Regions from separate parts of the Homo sapiens genome. Here regions 2, 3, 4 and 5 are each reported to be linked to region 1. Evidence: microRNA targets listed by miRTarBase, many of them from high-throughput screens and not tested one by one. Region 1 holds a microRNA gene; each other region holds the end of a gene's coding sequence.

Region 1 (4,524 bases):
TCCCACTATTCCACCTTTGACGGCACCTCTTACACCTTCCGGGGCAACTGCACCTATGTCCTCATGAGAGAGATCCATGCACGCTTTGGGAATCTCAGCCTCTACCTGGACAACCACTACTGCACGGCCTCTGCCACTGCCGCTGCCGCCCGCTGCCCCCGCGCCCTCAGCATCCACTACAAGTCCATGGATATCGTCCTCACTGTCACCATGGTGCATGGGAAGGAGGAGGGCCTGGTGAGTCCAGGCTGCGGGTGGCACAGTGTTGGCCCAGTCCCAACCGCACCTGGGCAGGCCGACTGCAGGCCGGGGTGACCCAGGTGCCGCAGCGATGGCCCAGTGCCCAAGACAGCTCCCAGGGGGCAGGGAAGGCCTGTGGAGCCGCCTAAGGCCGAGCGCACCCTGTGGCCTAAATGCAGCCAGCTGGAGACTCCAGGCCCCCAGGGAAGATCTGGGCTTTGGGGTGGGGGATACACAGGGGGGTCTCTGCACATGGAGGCAGAGCCCCAAAGAGAAGCCCTGCTCCCCGAGCCCACCTGGCACTGCCTCCCAGCTCAGGGTTCCCCTGGATTCCCCCAGATCCTGTTTGACCAAATTCCGGTGAGCAGCGGTTTCAGCAAGAACGGCGTGCTTGTGTCTGTGCTGGGGACCACCACCATGCGTGTGGACATTCCTGCCCTGGGCGTGAGCGTCACCTTCAATGGCCAAGTCTTCCAGGCCCGGCTGCCCTACAGCCTCTTCCACAACAACACCGAGGGCCAGTGCGGTGAGTGGGCGGCGGGTCCTGCCCCGGCCAGGGCTGCTGCTGGGCCTGACAACCCAGTGAGCATAGGGGAAGCCTGGGGAGGGGAATGAGTGGGGGAGGGGGGTGGGGGCTGTGAAAGGCTCCCCAGATTCCAGCCCCGCGGTGACGCCCCCACTCCCAGGCACCTGCACCAACAACCAGAGGGACGACTGTCTCCAGCGGGACGGAACCACTGCCGCCAGTTGCAAGGACATGGCCAAGACGTGGCTGGTCCCCGACAGCAGAAAGGATGGCTGCTGGGCCCCGACTGGCACACCCCCCACTGCCAGCCCCGCAGCCCCGGTGTCTAGCACACCCACCCCCACCCCATGCCCACCACAGCCGCTCTGTGATCTGATGCTGAGCCAGTGAGTCCTCCCCTCGGGGGTTGCAGGCCCTGGGGCGCCCCCGCCCGCCCGCATGCACGCACGCACGCAGCTCCCTGGGGCTGGGGGCCCTCCGTCCTGATCGCTTTGCCCCACAGGGTCTTTGCTGAGTGCCACAACCTTGTGCCCCCGGGCCCATTCTTCAACGCCTGCATCAGCGACCACTGCAGGGGCCGCCTTGAGGTGCCCTGCCAGAGCCTGGAGGCTTACGCAGAGCTCTGCCGCGCCCGGGGAGTGTGCAGTGACTGGCGAGGTGCAACCGGTGGCCTGTGCGGTGAGTGGGGGCGGCCCCGGGCCCCCCAGACCCCTCGGCCTCTCTGAGTGTCCTGTGCGGTGAGTGGGGGCGGCCCCGGGCCCCCCAGACCCCTCGGCCTCTCTGAGTGTCCTGTGCGGTGAGTGGGGGCGGCCCCGGGCCCCCCAGACCCCTCGGCCTCTCTGAGTGTCCTGTGCGGTGAGTGGGGGCGGCCCCGGGCCCCCCAGACCCCTCGGCCTCTCTGAGTGTCCTGTGCGGTGAGTGGGGGCGGCCCCGGGCCCCCCAGACCCCTCGGCCTCTCTGAGTGTCCTGTGCGGTGAGTGGGGGCGGCCCCGGGCCCCCCAGACCCCTCGGCCTCTCTGAGTGTCCTGTGCGGTGAGTGGGGGCGGCCCCGGGCCCCCCAGACCCCTCGGCCTCTCTGAGTGTCCTGTGCGGTGAGTGGGGGCGGCCCCGGGCCCCCCAGACCCCTCGGCCTCTCTGAGTGTCCTGTGCGGTGAGTGGGGGCGGCCCCGGGCCCCCCAGACTCCTCGGCCTCTCTGAGTGTCCTGTGCGGTGATTGGGGGCGGCCCTGGGCCCCCCCAACCCCTTGGCTTGTCTGACACCTCTCTGTGCCCACAGACCTCACCTGCCCACCCACCAAAGTGTACAAGCCATGCGGCCCCATACAGCCTGCCACCTGCAACTCTAGGTAAGTACAGGGATGGCTGGTGCCTTCCCTGCCACCCAGGCCTGCCTGACCGGTCTGGGGGAGCAGGAGGAGGCCAGAGGGTGTCCCACTGTGGGCCACAGATCTCTGGGGTGCCCGAGCCCAGGACTCCTTGGAAAACATCCCCTGCTGCTCCCAGATGCCTTAGAGACAGAGTCAGGCAGGGGGCGCATCCCTGGCCACGCCTGGCCCCGCATCCCCACCTGGCCCCGCCACCGAGCCCCACCCATCCCCGCCCATACTTAGCCCCGCCCACCCCCACCCCAGCCCCACCCGTCCCCGCCCCCAGCCCCGCCCACCCTGAGCCCCGCACTCCACCCATTCATCTCCTTCCCTGCTCCCCACTGCCCATCCTGGGGACTCACGTGGATGACAGTGGAGGCCTCCTGGATCTCTAGGTCTCAGGGCCTCTCTTGTCATCCTGCAGGAACCAGAGCCCACAGCTGGAGGGGATGGCGGAGGGCTGCTTCTGCCCTGAGGACCAGATCCTCTTCAACGCACACATGGGCATCTGCGTGCAGGCCTGCCGTAAGCTCCGCCACCTGTGGCGGGATACGACCCTGGGCCCGACCCAAGCACACACAGGGTGGGAGGAGCCGCCCAGGACCATGATGTGCTCTCCCCTCTCCCCAGCTGACCCCCGTGACCTGTTCTGCCCCACCAGAGCATGGGATGGCCCCAGAGTGGCCCTGAACCCTGCAGAGCCCCCACGGTCCCCTGAAGCCCCACAGGGAGGCTCTGTCCTTGAGTGATCCTGTGATGGTCCCTCCCCTGAGCCCTGCCTCCCACCACCATGGACGAGGCTTCCATGCACTGACAGCTGGGCTCACGGTGCCCTGGCCTGAGCTCCAGCCACATCTGACACCCCAAAAGTTCTCCAGGGCCTTCCATCCCGGGGGGAAGCAGGCTCCAGGCCTGAGAGCACCTCCCATGGCCAGAGGCCCCTCCGCCTGCAAACTCAGCACCCTCCGTGATGCCATGCTGTTTTCTTTCCAGCCTGCGTGGGACCCGATGGGTTTCCTAAATTTGTGAGTGGCTCCACCCCCACCTGCCCTACCCCACCCTCTCGCGAGCTGAGGGAGGGAGGGAAGGAGCATCCCCATCCCACAGGGCAGCTGTGGGGCGCCCGAGTGTGACGTGGACGTGCCAGTGGCTGGTGTGCGCTTCCTGCCCCATCACTCTGGGCCACTCGGGTACCAGCCCGAGGGAGGGGGTGGCTGGACAGATGCCCAGGGTTGACCTGTGTCTGTCCAGGAGCCCTCAGGGACCCCCTTGATCCATTCCAGCCCGGGGAGCGGTGGGTCAGCAACTGCCAGTCCTGCGTGTGTGACGAGGGTTCAGTGTCGGTGCAGTGCAAGCCCCTGCCCTGTGACGCCCAGGGTCAGCCCCCGCCGTGCAACCGTCCCGGCTTCGTAACCGTGACCAGGCCCCGGGCCGAGAACCCCTGCTGCCCCGAGACGGTGTGCGGTAAGACGCTGCAGAGCAGAGGTGCCCGGCATAGGGTGAGGGGGGACAGAGCCGGTGCCCACCAGGGGCCTGTGGGTTGGGCACAGGAGAGCAGAGGAGAGCCACTGTGTCCTGGCGTGACCGCGGCAGGACCACTCGGCAGAGATGGCCTCCAGGTGCTTCATTCTCCTCCTAACGATGAGGCTGGTGACCTCTGGCCTGCCCAGGAGTGGCCCAGGGACGTGGGAAGCAGCGGGGAGGTGGCCAAGCAAGGGGCCTGGAGGGAGCCCCCAGGGGCTGTGAAGCGGTCAGGTCCTCGGGGAAAAGCACGCCTGCGACTTACTCTGGGAACAAGTGGTCGGGAGGAGGAGTGAGCAGCGCCCAGACAGTGGCCTCCATCCTCCCGCAGTGTGCAACACAACCACCTGCCCCCAGAGCCTGCCTGTGTGCCCGCCAGGGCAGGAGTCCATCTGCACCCAGGAGGAGGGCGACTGCTGTCCCACCTTCCGCTGCAGTGAGCGGGGCTGGGGCCGGGCTCCTGGGTGGCCTCTTGCTGGGGGTGGGGGAGTGCAGGATGGTGGGGGCGCTGGAGCACATGCTCCCCACCACTTGTCGAGGGCTTAGCTCCCTTTCCTTCCAGGACCTCAGCTGTGTTCGTACAATGGCACCTTCTACGGGGTAAGGGCACAGCAGTGGGTGGGTGTGGCCCTGGGGCCTGAACATGTGTGTGGGATGCCCCGGGGCTCTCTGAGCCCCACTCCTTGTCTTGACATTCCTGCCCTGAGGGCCGATCCGCACAGGGGCCCTGGACACGTCAGAGCTGGGACATGCTTGGGACTCAGGGGCACCTTACGTCGACAGCCATGAGCTCCACAACTGCTGCCTCTGAGAGGTCCCTTCAGGGGCTCCCAGCAACAGCCTGGGGGCAGCACACACTGGCCTGGGGTCC
Region 2 (4,524 bases), not on the chromosome of region 1:
CCATGTACTGAAGAGTGCCACAGATAGTGTAGGCTTGAGCTCCCTGGGGCACGTGGCGGGACAGACCAAAGTCTGTCAGTTTCAGATGGCCTATGAAAGAAGGTAAGGCAACTGCACCACTGTTCCACCCATCATCAGCCATGATTTATTCCCAAACCAAAGTACCTCTCATCCTGGGGCTAAGGAAGGAAAAAGACTTACCTCGTTCATCTAGAAGAATATTCTCCATCTGAAAGATCACAGGTGAGAAGTAATTCTTCCTCTTCCTTTCAACTCTCTTTCATCATGTATACACCCCAGCTGAAGGTGATGCCCTACTCAGCACTCAAATCTATACTCAGAGAGCCCTTCCCCAAATCCTTGGCACCCATGGGGGCCCCAATGTCTACAGTTCTCAGCTCCCTAACTTCTTGGACTTGTTGGCACTTCTTATTGAGACTCTTTCTCAGACAAAGGGAAAAAAGCACTTAACTCTACCTTCACATCTCGATGCATGATGCCCAAGTCATGGAGATAACCTGTGGATAACAAGTATGGGGTATGCTGCAGCTTTTCTGTCCTTTCCAGTTTCCCTAGTAGCCCTCATCCCATCCCTATCCTATTCTTTAACTTCCATTATTAATATTAATTTTTTACTCTCCTTCTTCCGAACTTAAATCTTCCCTCCCCATTTCCTTTACCACTGTTTCACTTACACAGTACCAGCACCAACTCGGCAGCAAAGAGACGGATGGAAGCCTCAGGAAAGCAGCCAACAGCCGACCAAAGGGAGTACAGATCTGTGCTGCAGTAGCTACACACTGCAAAGCCAGTGTGGAGCTACATACATTGCCAGAAGTCTAGGCAATGTTTGGGAGCTGCAATGCCTGGGCTCAAGGCATTGTAGGCCTCCTGCCCAAACTGATACCACCTGCTGTTCCCCTCCCTTTGGGACAGAGAGGTGCCATGAGAAGGGGGACAGAGCAAAGGCAGAACAAGCCAAAGAGGTAATCTCAGGTGGGGAACATGGTACAAAGACCCTGGGGGATGAGGAGAGAGTCCAGTCACTCACTAATGAAAAGGTGCCGTTTTCCCTGCCAGCTGTCCCCCAAGCTGTGTACAAAGGGATGGTTGATCTGTCGCTAGGAACAAAGAAAACAGGAAGTTAGGGAGGAACAGGGTCATTGAGAATAAAGGCAGCTGAGAAATCAGGTTTTACCCAGATGTGCAGAGGGGGAACTGCTGCCTCACCTCTCAGTTCAGAGGAACTCAATATTTGGAACTGACTATCTGGTAATCCTAGAACCAGCAAATACTAAGGAATACACTGGGACATGCTTCAGAGATTTCCCTAGTAGGACATGGGAAAACTGTGTTGAGAGCTGATACTTTTCCCAGGATCTACTTTAGTGTTAAACTAGGCTGAAGCAGATGGATGAGGCAGAACCAGGAAAAGAAGGTGGGCAAGAAAGGTACTTTCCCTACCTGTGGCCTAGCTCTTCCCACAATCCTTTCCAGGACTCTGTGCATACCTGGATGCTAACCTCCTCTTTGCACTGCCTCACGGTATCCCTCTGTAGGACCTTTACCTTGGGCACCACCTATAAAAGGAGAGTAGTGATGACTCATAGATAGTGCTATTGAATTGTTTATTCCTCCCAACCTCTCTGGAATCAAGATTGGAAACAGAGACTAATGTGGTATCTACGCCCCTACCTTCACTGCAAATACAGCTTTCTGGGTGCAATCTAGCACCTTGAGGACAGTTCCAAAGGAGCCTTTAGCCACGAGGCCTAAAATCTGTACAGAGGAATGGAGAACAGGCCAGTTGAGACTGGTCATTTTTAACTTCTCCCAAAGACTGAGACCCCACTCAGGGATTCCACTGACTTACCTTCAGCTGCTGCTGCCCCCTAATGGGCCTAATGGGAAACTCTGGTAGAAAGAGGTTGATGAACTGAGGCACTGGCCACTCTGGCAGAGGCTTCTCTACCAGTACTGGGGCTGGCTTTAGGGATTCCTGGTGCAGATAGTGGTGCCCCCGTAGTTCCCAGAGTTCTTCCAGATCTGACCTGATGGTTCCCAAACCTGTCCAGAGGCTCTTCCAGCCTCGGGCCCAGGGACCCCGGATGTTGCCACCCTGCTGAGAACCAAGGGAGCCACTCTAAACTTTCTGCTCCTGAGGCATAGCAGGTTCCACCCATCTTACTAGGCACTCCCTCCCCTTAAGTCTCAACCCCTAGAGGTACATTTTTGAGCATGAGGCAAAATTCCCATTACCCTTGCTTTGTGCTAAGCCCCAGATTTCCTGGGCACAATTCAAATCCTCTAGGAAAATAATTGTTGGACATTTTCACCATGACGCATTAAGAGTACAGCCTGCACCTCAGTATTGGGCTGTGATGCTTTCATAGTACAGCCTCCCTGCCCCACCCCCACATTGGGTAATCACTTCCATGCTCCTAACCAGGAACTTCCCAGGACTCAAGCCCATGTCTCCCTCTCCTCCCCTCAGTAGGCTGCCAGAGCCCCACAGCCTACCTTGTGAGGGACAGCCACCCGGGTGTGTTCCCCCTGCTGGGTGTGCTGCCCCTGCCGACAGCTTACTGCTCCCATTCCCAGCCTCTGCCTCCTCTCTCTGCTAAATCTGCTGTCCCAGTTATATAAGCAATTCCTCTCCCTGATGCTGCGTGACACGAGCCCCGCCTCTTCCAGTCTGCAGAAACCCATCAGCATGGGGCCAGAGTCACACTAGGACTAGAAATTTCTGTGATACAGCTTCAGGGCAGAGGAAGGAAGGGGCCACCCTCAGAGTGGCAGCTGCAGGATGTTCTGGGTTGATGAGGGAGGAATACACAGATTGAATGCATGCACTCAACACACACACACAAAAATGAGCATCAAATTTAAAATATCTTTTTTTTTCTCTTTAAATCATTTTGCCATTCTCCAGGGTATATCCTACGGGGAAGGGTAGGGGACCCATGGCCAGCCCTGGCTCCTACTGCCATCCTCCCAAGTGAACTTAGCACAGAGACTGGGGAGGGGTTGACCCCCACTCCAGAACACCAATACCTCTTTCAAACATGACAGTGGAGTGAGGATCAGAGGATCAGCCCCCTCCCGTTTCCTGGCACAGAGGAAGGACAGTTACACTTAGAAATATATATATAATATATATATATTTATATATGTCTATAAAAATTTATCACACTTGATCAGGACTATCCCCCTACCCTTTCACTTGACCCCAAGGGAATAGGGTCCTGCCCTGGGCCCATTCCCTGGGTCTTGCTCTCTTGTTGCCTCTCTGGCCCTGAGCCTGATCAGTGTGAGACAGAACTCAGCATTACTGTCCACCATGCCCTGCAGCGAACAGACCAGGTGCTGAAGAGTGATGCCTATGGGCTCTGACACCCACAAATCCTCGTGGATAACGGGAAGCCCCTCCCACCCCACAAGTCCCTGGAGCCTGAGCCAGAGTCAGATCCTGTACTGCAGCCACTCGAATCGCCAAATCATTTGCGCCTGCCAAAGATGGACTTCTTGCCAGGGTTCTTGTCGCCCACACTTAAACCAATGAGGAGCCGGGCTTTCTCCTCCTCTTCCTGCTGTTGCATGTTCAGGTCCGATTTAGTTTCTAGCTTTCCCCGGACCTCAGAGCCTGTTGCAGACTTCAGCCTTAGCTTCTCTTTGATTACCTGGCAGATTGGAGAGGAGTAAAAGAAAATGTAAATATTAGTGGGCAGGCAGAATAAATCAAAATGAACCAAGACAATAAAGATTTATTAAACACATCCAAGGCACAATGGGGCAATTCACATACAATGGTCTCTGCTTTCAAGAAGCTTACAGTCTAATTATAACCCCTTCTAAACTTTAGGTTGTGTTAGCTCTCAGTTCCCTAAAATCAATGGTGCTATACGAAACACTCAGTAAACACTGAATTTAATAATCTGAGTGAGGTCATGGAGAGGGTAGGCATAGAAGCCACTCACTTCATGCACCTGCCCCTTCCCAAGGATATTTATTCATGGATTCTAAAATGAAAGGCTCCTGAAAAGAGGATCTGCCTGCCAGCCCCATTAGCCAAACAGCCATGAGCCCTGGCGGGATACCTGGGCAACCAGGGCTTTGCGGCTGTCCCTTTTGACAGCCATGGCAAAGTCTAGCCATGTCCATGTGTTGTTGTGGTACTCCAGACAGGGCAGCACCAGGTTAAGGTCACCCCAGTCCACACTGTTCTTCTCACCCTGTAAGAGGAGGGGGAGGGGAAAGAAAAAAAGAGGGGTGGGGAATACATCAGCTGCCATTTTGAGTCCCAGCCAGCCACTTGAGTGCCAAGTCCTACAATAGTAACCTACAGATACTGATTTCCCCTTACCTCAGCCTCGTAATGATGCTGACTCTTGAGGGGAGCAGAGGGAACAGCAGATTTATCACCCACAGCTCAGCATCACAAACAACCTAGCTGTCTCCCTGTATAGAATCTCTGATCTTATCTGGTTCCCTTCCCACCCTGTTCTACAAAGTGCTTGAGAGGTG
Region 3 (4,524 bases), not on the chromosome of region 1:
AAAAAAATTTCTCATGTTTTCTTCTAGTACTGTTATGATTTCAGTTTTTGCATTTAAATTTTTGTTCCGTCTTATATTTATTTTGGTGCTAGCTATAAATAAAAGCAAAGAGTAAGTATATCCATGTCATGCATATGTTCAGTAACTTAGCTCTGTCTCTTCAAATCTCTTTTTGAAGTAGATCTGTAAATAAAACTCAGCTCTTCAGAAACAAATTTCTTCATGATACTTGAACTATTTAGTTTGTTATTATTGAGGATATTCTCATAAAGGCGGAGGAAAAATACTTTTCCCAAGCAAAATCCAAGTTAAATATGTTGAAGTAAATGAACCAAACACTGGATTGTTGAAAAATATTTAGTCATTTATTCACCTCAATTAATGTAACTTTAGGATACAGATTCTTCTGTGATTTTATTATCTTCTCACCCCATTTAGGTTGCGAGTTATAAGGACTCAGCATCATGTAGAAGCACTTGTGGAGCATCAGAATGGCAAGGTTGTGGTTTCGGCCTCCACTCGTGAGTGGGCTATTAAAAAGCACCTTTATAGTACCAGAAATGTGGTGGCTTGTGAGAGTATAGGACGAGTGCTGGCACAGAGATGCTTAGAGGCGGGAATCAACTTCATGGTCTACCAACCAACCCCGTGGGAGGCAGCCTCAGACTCGGTATTTTTGTTTTCATGTACTTATTGAAAAGGTATTGTGTTAATTCTTGGCATTAGATAACTTACATAATAATAACAGTTTTTACTTACCAAATACTTTCCATGTGTCAGACCCTTTGGTGAGTACTCAACAGTGTTACTTCATTTAATCCTCACATCAGTCCATAGGGTAGGGACTAGTACTCTCATTCTATACAGAAATAAACTGAGGCTTACTTGCCCAGAGTCAGTGTATGGTGGATTTCAAACCCAGGGTGACTGATTCTGTAGTCCATGATGTCAGCCACTGTATTTCCTGTTCATATATTGACATCTTGTCCATATAATATTTTGAAATGCTGCTGAACCTTGACATCTCTACATTTCCTTTTTACTTACATCATTATTAAGATCACTTTCTGAAAAACCGTTGTAGGCTGGGAAGTTAGCAAGAACAAATCAATTTATTTCTGTCTTTTGGAAGGTGAAAGTATTTTCAGCCTACTCGTGCTGCTGACTTAATCTTTTCCTTTTTTTTCTGATTTTCAAAACCAGATGAAACGACTACAAAGTGCCATGACAGAAGGTGGTGTGGTTCTACGGGAACCTCAGAGAATCTATGAATAAATGGAAGCATTAATTGTTTTGAACATGTAAATATAAATCTGTCAGCCACTACAGCCATCAAAAGAGAGCATCTGGAAGAACAGCCAGCTTGGAAGTTTTACAGCAATAATGTTGCAGTGGAATATTATTTGTAGTTAAGGTCATCCTCCTCCCCTTTCTGTTTTTTTAAATCAAGAACTACGTTCTGCCCCTCTCTTGGGCTTCAGAAGCATCTAAGAAAAGCAGTCATCAATTATAATTAACTTTCAAAGGGCAAGTCAGAAGTTGTTTATAAATTACAAAATAAAGGCATATTATGAACTCTTATTTTCTGGTTATATGACATTGTCTGAGCTCACTGTGGCAGTGGAGCACATATGAGGTTGATGTAAAGCACTTATTACTGTGTCTAGTTCATGGCGAGTGATCTCAGTGAATGACAGTTGTTTGCTGCTCGGAGTGTGGGTTGTTTTTTAAAATAGGAAATGTCAGTATCAATCTAATACTATAGAACAGTCAGTATGTGAAAATGAAAGGACCAAATGCCAACCTCACTTGGACTCTTGGTTCCCAACAGTAAGAGAAACAAATTTGAAAGAGGAAGGAGGTGGCATCAGGAGCTGAAAGCAGAGGTGGAAATGGTTGGGGTTAGTGGGCGCTCAATTTGCCATGAAGTGAACATTTTATTAGATAGGAGATGAAACTTGAAATGCATGCAAGTTAATCTAAAATTTGAGCTTGGGTAGATGGGAATCATGGCAGTTCTCTGAAAGGAGCTGATTAAGGTGTTAATTTTTGGCTATTTGATAAATGTGAGAAAAAACCTGTAGGCAGTTAAGGTGGCTTCTAGAGCATTGTTTTCCAGTTTTTTTAATGTATACCCCAATTAAATGTTTGTTTAGAAGTGAAATATGTTACTTCTGCCAATTTGAGTATTCAATGTGTTATTTTAAATGGAACACATCTGTATGAAGTATGATTTGTTCTGAGAGGTCTTCAGAATCAAATGGCTTAATAGTCCCCTTTTGCTTAATTAATGTCCCGGAGAGGCATTTAAAAGTATAATTGAAGATCGGATGCAGTGCCTCACACCTCTAATCCCACCACTTTAGGAGGCTGAAGCAGGTGGATCACTTGAGGCCAGGAATTCGAGACCAGCCTGGCCAATACGGTTTAACCCTATCTCTACTAAAAACAAAAATGAGTTGGGCGTGGTGGTGCATGCCTGTAATCCCAGCTGTTCAGAGGCTGAGGCGGGAGAATCGCTTGAACTCAGGAGGTGGAGATTGCAGAGAGCCGAGATGGCACCACTGCACTCCAGCCTGGGTGACAGAGTGAGACTGTCTCAAAAGGAAAAAATAAAGTATAACGGTAATGTTTTCTCCGCTAACCTTAAAGATTGATTTGAGCACCTCACTTTGAGGACCATAGTTCCAAAACGCTGTTCAAGTAGAAGCCTAGAATTCAAGGGAGGACACTGTAAGGAAGACCATGGACTAGTTGCACTGGAAACAGTAACAAAAGTAAAAATTAAGCTCACATGTATGTGATGATGTAGGTAGGGATTTCCGCAAGGAGTGAGTGCACGAGATAATCCCTGGGGACCAAGGATTCCTTCAATTTAATGGGCAGTTCTTGAGGCTTTGCAAAGTTTGATTGCAGGTGTGAAGACAGTGGTAAGGTGGACAGCAGAATGAGGAAAAAGATGTCCAGGGGCGTGGGAGAGGGAATGGGGACAGACATACTGGCAGTGATGGAGAAGTTGGGAAGAGGTGATTTAGAAGACCGTGAGCCGCAGCAAAGGATCTGCTTATTGCAGTTGCGTCCGGTGTTGTTCCTGCTCCGCTTTTCTGATTTCACCCTTTCTGGACTCTGTCTTCGTCTCCTGCCACGCCTCTTAACATTCTAAGTCCATGTAAATGACATTCTCACGTTAAGGGCTGCAAAGAAATTGCTGAGGAGCCAGGTAAACAGGCTTTGATTGCAATTGCAATCAAACCTCTGTAGCAAATCGTACAATTAAAACACCCGCAGGCAGGTGTGGGCGACGCCAGCAGCACACGGGGAAGCTGGGCACGTGGGGCGGAGGCAGCTGCCTGGTTTCCATGTGTGCGCCCTTTAAGACCCGGCGGCGCGACGGAAGCGCGTGGGCAGCACGTGGGCAGCACGTGATAGCGCTGGGCGACTCCGCGGAGCTGCACGGCCATGGACGTGGGCGCCGACGAGTTCGAGGAGAGCCTCCCTCTGCTGCAGGAGCTCGTCCAGGAGGCCGACTTCGTGGGTGAAGAGCCTGGGATTCGCGGCTGTGCCGGACAGAGCCCCTTGCCCCGGGCGAGCTTGAGGAGGGGGTGGCGGGACGGTTGCCAGGCCACAGGGCCTCAGAGAGGGCCTCGGGAAGGACAGGGGGGCTTCCTTCTCCAGCCCCGGGGCGGTGGGACTTTGAGCAGCAAGTACACTCCGAGCCCCACGTCCCTTGTTGGCCAGAGCCCCGTGCGCCCAGGTGCCTGGCTGCTCCTTGCCTTGGTTCCTCCATTTTCCCTTCCTGACCTCACTTGGCTTCTTGAGCGCAGAGGTGAGCGCGGGTGCCTTGGCCGCCTGCAGATCTACAGTGTGAGGAGTGCTGGCGATGTTCTGCACCCGAGGACTGCTATTTTTTGCCTTCCTGGCAGGTCTGGACATAGAGTTCACGGGCCTTCGTTCTAACCTGTCTGGGCCCCAGCAGATCAGGTAAAACTAAAGCTGTGTCCCCTCTGTATAAGAGCCTGGCCAGACCAGCACTGTTTCTGGCCAGCAGCCTGTTGGCATTTGGGGGGCAGGACGTTTTGTGTGGCTTGCTCCTACGTGTTGGAGGACCTTGCTTTTTTCTGTCCACTAAATGATGGTAGTGCTCCCTAGTTGTTGTAACAAGGAAAAAATCCTCCCCGGTTGCGAGTGGTGGTCCTGCCGCGGAGGCCATAGTGCCGGGATGGGATGTCATTGCTCGTGGAATGAGATGCCTGTTTGTTCACAGTCTTTTTGATTTGCCATCGGAGTGGTATCTAAAGACCCGTCAGAGTGTTCAGCAATTTACAGTCTGTCAGATTGGTGAGTTTAATATCAGCTGTTAGAGTTTTTCAAGAAGGTATTTTTATTGTCCTTGGATTTCCTACTGTAAAAACAGCTCTGAGATTTTTCAAGGATATTGAGTATCGTTTTGTATGCTTGTTTTGTGTTGGGCCATTGTATACATATGGAAATCAACACTTCGGAGCAAACCAAATTTAGCAGCAT
Region 4 (3,000 bases), not on the chromosome of region 1:
GGGCGACAGACCCCGTCTATAAAAAATTAAAAAATAATGTGCATGGTGGTGCACGCCTGTAGTCACAGCTATTCAAGAGGTGGAGGTGGAAGGATCACTTGAGCCCAGGCGTTAGAGGTTACATTGAGCAGGGATCTCACCACTACACTCCAGCATGGCTAACAGAGTGAGACCCTGTGTCTAAATAATAATGTATGGGCCCTTTGGATAAGGTAGTGTTTGTGATTTAATGTAAACTGTCTTTTTCTTGTTGCAGAGAAATGCTAACTTTGTCTTCTTCATCCATACAGGTTGGTGACATCGTGAAAGTCACAAGGATGAATATAAATGGCCAGTGGGAAGGCGAAGTGAACGGGCGCAAAGGGCTTTTCCCCTTTACGCACGTCAAAATCTTTGACCCTCAAAACCCAGATGAAAACGAGTGATTGCTGTTGCCCTGTTTCCTGCTGCTTTGTTGTTCTGCCTGTCCTAGTCTCCTTTGAAGTGGGAAAGCATTTTCTCTCATAGGCAAGTCACACTGCATTGCCGAAGTCCAGCTTTCTGCAGACTGGCAGTCGCACACACATTTGGAATGCACACAGCGGCTGCCTCCTGATGTTTGTATCATAGTCGTATTGTCAAAGAGTAGCCGATTTTAGAGTTCTTTTGGATCATAAACTGGAAATACTGATGGAAGCACACAAGTGGAGAGAAGTTGACATGGAAAGGGTCTTCCTTCTCATTGCTGCCCGTTTGTACATGGGACTGATTCTGTTGTGTTCACCAGAGAAAGCTTGAGGCCATGGCGAGATACTGCATGTTTGCTGTTCCACAAAGCAGTGGCTTAGCTGCCATCTTGCTTTTCTTTGGACAACAGGAAGTGAACCTTAAGGAAGAGAGAATTCTGTTCTAAAACTCCAAAATCTGGCTTTTTTTTTTCTTTTGTTTTGGTTTGGTTTTGGAAAACTAATTAATTAGACTTGTGTGGGGGTTTTTTTTTGTTTTGTTTTGTTTGTTTTGTTTTGTTTTTTTGAGACGGTGTCTCGCTGCATCACCCAGGCTGGAGTGCAGTGGCGCAATCTCGCCTTCCTGCAGTCTCCGCCTCCTGAGTTCAAGCGATTCTCCTGCCTCAGCCTCCCAAGTAGCTGGGACTGCAGGCGCGCACACCACGCCCAGCTAATTTTTGTATTTTTAGTAGAGACGGGGTTTCATCATGTTGACCAGGCTGGTCTCAAACTCCTGACTTCAGGTGATCCACCCGCCTTCAGCCTCCCAACGTGCTGGGATTACAGCCGTGAGCCGCCGCGCCTGGCCTAGACTTGTGTGTTCTAAACAGGTTAAGTAGCAGGTTGGGTTTTTATGATAGTGCAAGGAATGACTCATGCCTCTGAGCTTCTAAACTGAAGCTGCTGTAACTAAAGGAATCTGAAAAGAACAACCCTGAAGCAGAGGCCTTTATTGTCTTGGTTGCCAGTAGTACCTTGTTTTGCCATGTAGCAGACAACACACAAAATAATGCAGTTGTGGTGTGCCATGCTATGTGCACAGCCCCTTGGATTACTTTGTTTTAAAAAGCATCAGAGTTGGGGGTACTTTAGGGAAACCTTTGCTTACCTTGTTTTGCCAGTGATAAGAGCAGTGGGTTGGAGGGCACTTGGCCAGTTTTCTGTTCAGCTTTTCAGTGAATGTACCCCTTTAAGGTTCAGACTTAAACTTCCTTAAAAAGTGGCGTTGTTCATAGAATCGTTGGACTCATTAATGAATCGTTCAACTCCACTCACTGAAGCCCAGACCTCCGTGCCCAGGCCCAATCTCGTCAGGCTGCCAGAGAAAGTTGGTGCTGCTCATACTGGTCTCACAGTCTAAGTAAGTGTCTGTGATGCTCCCAAGCAAAGGAAATGCAAGCTCTGGAAATTCGTTAATGTATTTGATGTCTTAGTGTTTTAGTGACTAGGGAGACCATTAACTAGTTTATCATTAACCACTTATCAGTGTATTGATGTTAAAGCATTTCCCTGTTAGCTAAAAGAGGCCTGTTCATACAAGCCAACTGGTATATACGTGTGGTTCATCCATCATCTGCTGCACATAGCAGACTAGAATTCTGGGAACCCTGTGCAATTCAGTCTGCTCTCCCTTGTGGACCCTGGTAAAGAAAAGCCTCAGCTCATAGTGAACACAGCAGACCTAGAAATGTAGCAGCAGCCTACTGAGTAGCTTTCATTTACTGATCATCTGCTGTGACTGTGGCCCTGTCTGGAGGTTCCTAGGTTTTGAGATTTAGAGCAATGCATTCTGGAGACAGAACCAGCAGAACAGCCATTTTTCAATTTTTCTTTAAATCAGTATTCCATCAGGCAGATAACTGCTGTATTCATGAATCTTGAGAGTGTTCCTGAGACAGAATTAATGGTCATTTGGGAAAACTATCGCCATGGCTTCCCATCTGTGGTTTTCCTCTAAAAGCCTTGGAGATTAGCCCTTCCTTGCCAGTGAGAACGGTGACCGCCTCCTGCTCTGCACGGTCTGCGGCAGTTGCCGCTTCTGGTTAGGTGTGTCAGGTTGGCTTATTTTGGGTTCAGGCCTGGCGTAGCACCCACAAGTGGCAGACATATCACAAGAGTCCCCAGACTCTGCCTAGAAACAGTGTTTGCCCTTTGGCCAGTGACGTGGTTCATCCCGGCCCATGTTGAGCCATGAGTGGAGTTTCCAACAGAGGGAGGAATGTGTGCCTTGTTCAAGGAGGGCACGACCCTTAGGCCTTTTTCAACCAGATTTAGCTGAAGGGCTTGACACCTTTGAATTACAGCAGTTGACTCAGAGTGCAAGAAGTCTGGCCATTTTGGAAAGCAAGGTTTCCTTTCAGCCCTGTCTACTGACCAATACCCCGACTCACCTTGTGTGGCGCACTTCAGAATCAGATATACCTAGAGTATACCTGTGGTTTGGTTTTATAATTAATCAGCTCGTTACTTCAGCCCATGAAAATGGCATCCAGGGCTGCCAGGAGATTCAGAGCTC
Region 5 (4,524 bases), not on the chromosome of region 1:
GGCGACCTGGATCAGATGGGGCGAGGGCAGATGAAGGGCCCAGGAGCTTTGGGGCAGCGAGGAGGGAGGAGCGGGCCCGTTGGCAAACTTGGGTGAAAGGATGGGGTACCTGGGTGACGAGCCCCCGCCAGGATTCTGCTCTTCACGCCCCTTTTCTCCCAGCTCCCTTCCAGGTCAATCCAAACTGGAGCTCAACTTTCAGAAGAGAAAGACGCCCCAGCAAGCCTCTTTCGGGGAGTCCTCTAGCTCCTCACCTCCATGGGCCAGACAGCTCTGGCAGGGGGCAGCAGCAGCACCCCCACGCCACAGGCCCTGTACCCTGACCTCTCCTGTCCCGAGGGCTTGGAAGAGCTGCTGTCTGCACCCCCTCCTGACCTGGGGGCCCAGCGGCGCCACGGTTGGAACCCCAAAGACTGTTCAGAGAACATCGAGGTCAAGGAAGGAGGGTTGTACTTTGAGCGGCGGCCCGTGGCCCAGAGCACTGATGGGGCCCGGGGTAAGAGGGGCTATTCAAGGGGCCTGCACGCCTGGGAGATCAGCTGGCCCCTAGAGCAGAGGGGCACGCATGCCGTGGTGGGCGTGGCCACGGCCCTCGCCCCGCTGCAGACTGACCACTACGCGGCGCTGCTGGGCAGCAACAGCGAGTCGTGGGGCTGGGACATCGGGCGGGGGAAGCTGTACCATCAGAGCAAGGGGCCCGGAGCCCCCCAGTATCCAGCGGGAACTCAGGGTGAGCAGCTGGAGGTGCCAGAGAGACTGCTGGTGGTTCTGGACATGGAGGAGGGAACTCTGGGCTACGCTATTGGGGGCACCTACCTGGGGCCAGCATTCCGCGGACTGAAGGGCAGGACCCTCTATCCGGCAGTAAGCGCTGTCTGGGGCCAGTGCCAGGTCCGCATCCGCTACCTGGGCGAAAGGAGAGGTGAGGCCTGGGGCAGACGTGGGGAGAACTTTCTGTCCCTGGTGGCAGTGGTTTGGGATGGAAACTCTTCTGACAAGAGCAGAGGGGATGGACCTTCATCCAGCCTGCCTCAACCTCTGTTCAGTGCTGGGAAAGGCTAGGGGTCTTCACAGCTGTTATTTAATTTAACCCAACAGCAATAGAGGTGAAACAGGCTTGAGAAAGCAACTTTCTCAAGTTCTCTTGGCCAGTAAATGGTGAACCTTCAGAATGGAGGGAGGAACTGCAGGGATGAGAGAATTCAGGAGATATCAACCCCTGAGCAAGAGGTGCAAAGCGTTAGGTACTGGGTTTGATGTACAGGTCCAAAAGAAGGATGGGCAGAGCCAGGTACCCAGGCTGTATACCGGATTCCCTGGGCTCTAACCTGTCTCTGTGCCACATACCTACTTCCTTCCTCAGCCACACCTCTGGATGGAGACACTGGGGCCCTGGGCACCAGGGAGGAGAGCAGTGGAGGAGGCAGGGCCTTAGGGTGGGGCAGCAGGGGAGGAGCCTCCCCAGGAACTGACTGGGTCCAGGGCTTGGAGCTGCTCTCTGCAGTTGTGTGGGCTGTAGAGTGGAGGGCCATCCCTCCTCACCTCAGCCCCAGCTCCCAAGCCTCTGGAGTCAAAGCCTGGGCCAGCTCCACCACTGTCAGAGCCACCTTGGCCTGTTGTTTAGAGGGCCTTAGCCAGCTCTTCACCCCCAGCTCTGACTAGGGATGTGTGAAATCTTATCTGGGAGGCAGAACTTCCGGGTATCTCAAATTCCCCTTTCAGCCAGGTGGGCACACTCGAAGCAGGAAAGCAGAAAGGCATCTGAGTAGGACCCCGTAGTTTGAGGACATCTGGCTGGTGGCTGCACCCATACTTACATTCCCCTCCTTCTCTCTCCCAGCGGAGCCACACTCCCTTCTGCACCTGAGCCGCCTGTGTGTGCGCCACAACCTGGGGGATACCCGGCTCGGCCAGGTGTCTGCCCTGCCCTTGCCCCCTGCCATGAAGCGCTACCTGCTCTACCAGTGAGCCCTGTGATACCACAGACTGTGCTGAGGTCTTGCCACCACCCCTCCCCTTGGGGAGGTGGGGAGGCACTGCTGGCCTAGACCAGCTGCTGAAAGCTGGTGAGGCTGAGCCCCTACCCCAACCCAAGCTCTGCGGAAATCAACAGCCCCAGAGCCACTTGGAGGGAGGAAGAAAGGGAGCCGGCGTTCAAGGCTATGACAGTCTGCTACGCAAAACATTTTTTCAAGTAAAAATAGTAAGAGATGTTGTTATAGAAACCTGTTCTTGTTTTTTTTTTTTTCTTGCACAAATGATCATTTATATAGCTGCCTCAAAAAGGAAGATTATCTGGGCAAGTCCAGTGAAGGCAGACAAACCACAAGACCTAGTGCCAGGTTTATTCCCTCACATGGGTGGTTCACATACACAGCACAGAGGCACGGGCACCATGGGAGAGGGCAGCACTCCTGCCTTCTGAGGGGATCTTGGCCTCACGGTGTAAGAAGGGAGAGGATGGTTTCTCTTCTGCCCTCACTAGGGCCTAGGGAACCCAGGAGCAAATCCCACCACGCCTTCCATCTCTCAGCCAAGGAGAAGCCACCTTGGTGACGTTTAGTTCCAACCATTATAGTAAGTGGAGAAGGGATTGGCCTGGTCCCAACCATTACAGGGTGAAGATATAAACAGTAAAGGAAGATACAGTTTGGATGAGGCCACAGGAAGGAGCAGATGACACCATCAGAAGCATATGCAGGGAAAGGGCAGTTACTGGGCTTCTGGGCTGCTTAGTCCCTGGCTTGGCAGGAAGGGTAGGGAAGATGGATGGGGCTCATTGTTTGGCATTGATGATGTCCACGAATTCGGGCTTGAGGGAAGCACCACCCACAAGGAAGCCATCCACATCAGGCTGGCTGGCCAGCTCCTTGCAGGTTGCCCCAGTCACAGAGCCTGGGAAGGGAGCAGAACAAGGGCTTGGTCAAGAATGGGATGAGTCTGCCCCATCCCCACCTCCATGTCCGAGGGCTCAGTCTAGTCCTCAGCCCACTCCACCTCAGCCGGGAACCAAAGCCACTCACCTCCATAAATGATACGGGTGCTCTGAGCCACCGCATCAGAGACGTTGGACTTCAGCCATCCTCGGAGCTTCTCGTGTACTTCCTGGGCCTAGAACAAGAAGCTGGCCTAAGTAAGACCTTTTCTGCCTCTCTAAGAGGAAAAATCACTGGCACCAGTGGACACTTAGTGTGGTTTCTGACTGAGTCAGAGTACCAGGGCTCTGATCCAAGCCAGGCCCTGGACTGGATGCCCTTGGACAAGTCACTGTCTCTGGGTTCAAGGTCTCTGTGTCTTTGAAATAAGGGGTTGCCCCATGTGGGCTGTGTCTGTCCAAACCTATTGAGGCAGGCTGGGATGAGGGCAGGGCTCCTGGGCCCGGTTACCTGTTGGGGTGTTGCAGTCTTGCCAGTACCAATGGCCCACACAGGCTCATAGGCCAGGACGACCTTGCTCCAGTCCTTCACGTTATCTGCAGGGCAGAGATACAGATGGAGGGAAGGGTGAACAAGAAAGAGCTCTCCAGCCAGGTTCTCCGGAGTACGAAGAACGGTGGCCTACTGCCCCCTAGTGGACATTGGGGGATTTCCAGGTGGCATCTACCTTGGGGCTGGAGAAGTCATAGGCCCCAAGCAAAGATTGTCACTCCCCCTCCCCTTTTTCCTTTTCTGGATCAGCATGGGGACCAAGACAGGCTCCAGGGCCTGACCCTACCCTCTGAGTCTCTGTGGCCCTGGATAGGCTCAAAGGTCCCTTTCTCCAGAGATACCTGCGATGACCTTTGTCTGCTCGAAAACAACCTTCTCAGTGATGCCAGCTTCCCTTTCATCTAGCTTCTCCCCAATGCAGGCGATTACTCCGAGTCCCTCTGCCAGAGCATGGGCCACTTTCTGCCCAATCAGCTGTTGAGAAACAGACTTGGTGAGACATCCTTCTTGGAAAAAGACATCCCTTATCTTCTCTCTTGGCTACTAACCTCATCTGACTCCCCAAAGACATGCCTTCTCTCTGAGTGCCCCAGGACCACCCACGTGGCTCCGCAGTCTTTGATCATGCCAGGGCTAAAGGAAGAGATGAAGCCAAGGTTCAGCAGGGAGCCCACCCTGTGGCTTTCCCCTCAACGAGGAAAGTGAGGGAAGGGTCCCACACACCCCTCTCCACCTCGATCTCACCTGATCTCCCCAGTAAAAGCCCCATTAGTCACTTTGTAGCAGTTCTGCGCAGCCACAGCAATCTTGGGATCTAGCTTCTGCCGGGCGAAGTCGATATAGGCAGTAGGGGGAGCACAAACCACCTCTGAGGACAAGATGGTACCACAGGGGGATGAGACTAAAGAAAGCCTTCATTCCCCACAATTCCTAACCAGTGCCCTGGAGCCCCCCAGCCCTCACCCTCTTCTTCTTGGTTCTGCTCTCCCCCTTTTCACCCCAGCAAGATGACCTTTGTCCATTTTCCAGCCCAGGCTGGGTCTGCACTCAACTCGAAGAGCCTTCCAGATACCCCTGAGAGGCCACGGCCCTCACC

What was found. Region 1 holds the annotated microRNA hsa-miR-6744-5p (UGGAUGACAGUGGAGGCCU, at 2,496-2,514, shown strand). A microRNA usually pairs through its seed, bases 2 to 8, with sites in the 3' UTR of a target mRNA and lowers its output. Matches are read on the target gene's strand: a 7mer-m8 pairs with bases 2 to 8, a 7mer-A1 pairs with bases 2 to 7 and ends in A, and an 8mer does both.
Region 2: the mRNA of BLTP2 is a reported target of hsa-miR-6744-5p. The part of its 3' UTR that is shown has no 7-base or 8-base seed match.
Region 3: miRTarBase lists MRPL18 as a target of hsa-miR-6744-5p. Seed matches in the 3' UTR shown: 7mer-m8 at 1,415-1,421.
Region 4: the mRNA of CRKL is a reported target of hsa-miR-6744-5p. Seed matches in the 3' UTR shown: 7mer-A1 at 2,048-2,054.
Region 5: miRTarBase lists TPI1 as a target of hsa-miR-6744-5p. Seed matches in the 3' UTR shown: 7mer-A1 at 2,652-2,658.

What each region holds. Positions count from the first base shown.
Region 1 is chr11:1,254,115-1,258,638 of GRCh38, forward strand. It overlaps MIR6744 (microRNA 6744), which reads left to right and starts at 2,491; the gene lies at 2,491-2,556. It overlaps MUC5B (mucin 5B, oligomeric mucus/gel-forming), which reads left to right. Exons shown (of 49, transcript NM_002458.3): 34 at 1-237; 35 at 580-766; 36 at 927-1,152; 37 at 1,269-1,444; 38 at 2,042-2,111; 39 at 2,557-2,657; 40 at 3,126-3,157; 41 at 3,416-3,596; 42 at 3,985-4,089; 43 at 4,216-4,253.
Region 2 is chr17:28,611,567-28,616,090 of GRCh38, forward strand. It overlaps BLTP2 (bridge-like lipid transfer protein family member 2), which reads right to left. Exons shown (of 39, transcript NM_014680.5): 38 at 4,098-4,232; 39 at 2,880-3,680. The coding sequence ends at 3,498. RSKR (ribosomal protein S6 kinase related) reads right to left here and starts at 2,619. Exons shown (of 12, transcript NM_001174103.2): 1 at 2,521-2,619; 2 at 1,874-2,122; 3 at 1,696-1,779; 4 at 1,512-1,580; 5 at 1,052-1,121; 6 at 696-800; 7 at 478-518; 8 at 202-229; 9 at 1-90. The coding sequence starts at 2,595. All of the region lies in intron 2 of SPAG5-AS1 (SPAG5 antisense RNA 1), which reads left to right. RefSeq lists an enhancer at 1-983.
Region 3 is chr6:159,796,849-159,801,372 of GRCh38, forward strand. It overlaps MRPL18 (mitochondrial ribosomal protein L18), which reads left to right. Exons shown (of 4, transcript NM_014161.5): 3 at 439-670; 4 at 1,204-1,581. The coding sequence ends at 1,275. It overlaps PNLDC1 (PARN like ribonuclease domain containing exonuclease 1), which reads left to right and starts at 3,428. Exons shown (of 19, transcript NM_001271862.2): 1 at 3,428-3,535; 2 at 3,924-3,981; 3 at 4,265-4,338. The coding sequence starts at 3,460.
Region 4 is chr22:20,949,421-20,952,420 of GRCh38, forward strand. CRKL (CRK like proto-oncogene, adaptor protein) reads left to right here. Exons shown (of 3, transcript NM_005207.4): 3 at 291-3,000. The coding sequence ends at 425. Among named protein-coding and RNA genes, the nearest start is that of LINC01637, 6.2 kb to the right of the region's middle. RefSeq lists enhancers at 2,099-2,600, 2,601-3,000.
Region 5 is chr12:6,868,636-6,873,159 of GRCh38, reverse strand. TPI1 (triosephosphate isomerase 1) reads right to left here. Exons shown (of 7, transcript NM_000365.6): 2 at 4,173-4,296; 3 at 3,977-4,061; 4 at 3,770-3,902; 5 at 3,387-3,472; 6 at 3,024-3,111; 7 at 2,212-2,895. The coding sequence ends at 2,777. It overlaps SPSB2 (splA/ryanodine receptor domain and SOCS box containing 2), which reads left to right. Exons shown (of 3, transcript NM_032641.4): 2 at 163-922; 3 at 1,841-2,225. The coding sequence starts at 259. The coding sequence ends at 1,968. Among named protein-coding and RNA genes, the nearest start is that of SPSB2, 2.4 kb to the left of the region's middle. RefSeq lists enhancers at 288-527, 1,854-2,439 and a silencer at 1,078-1,197.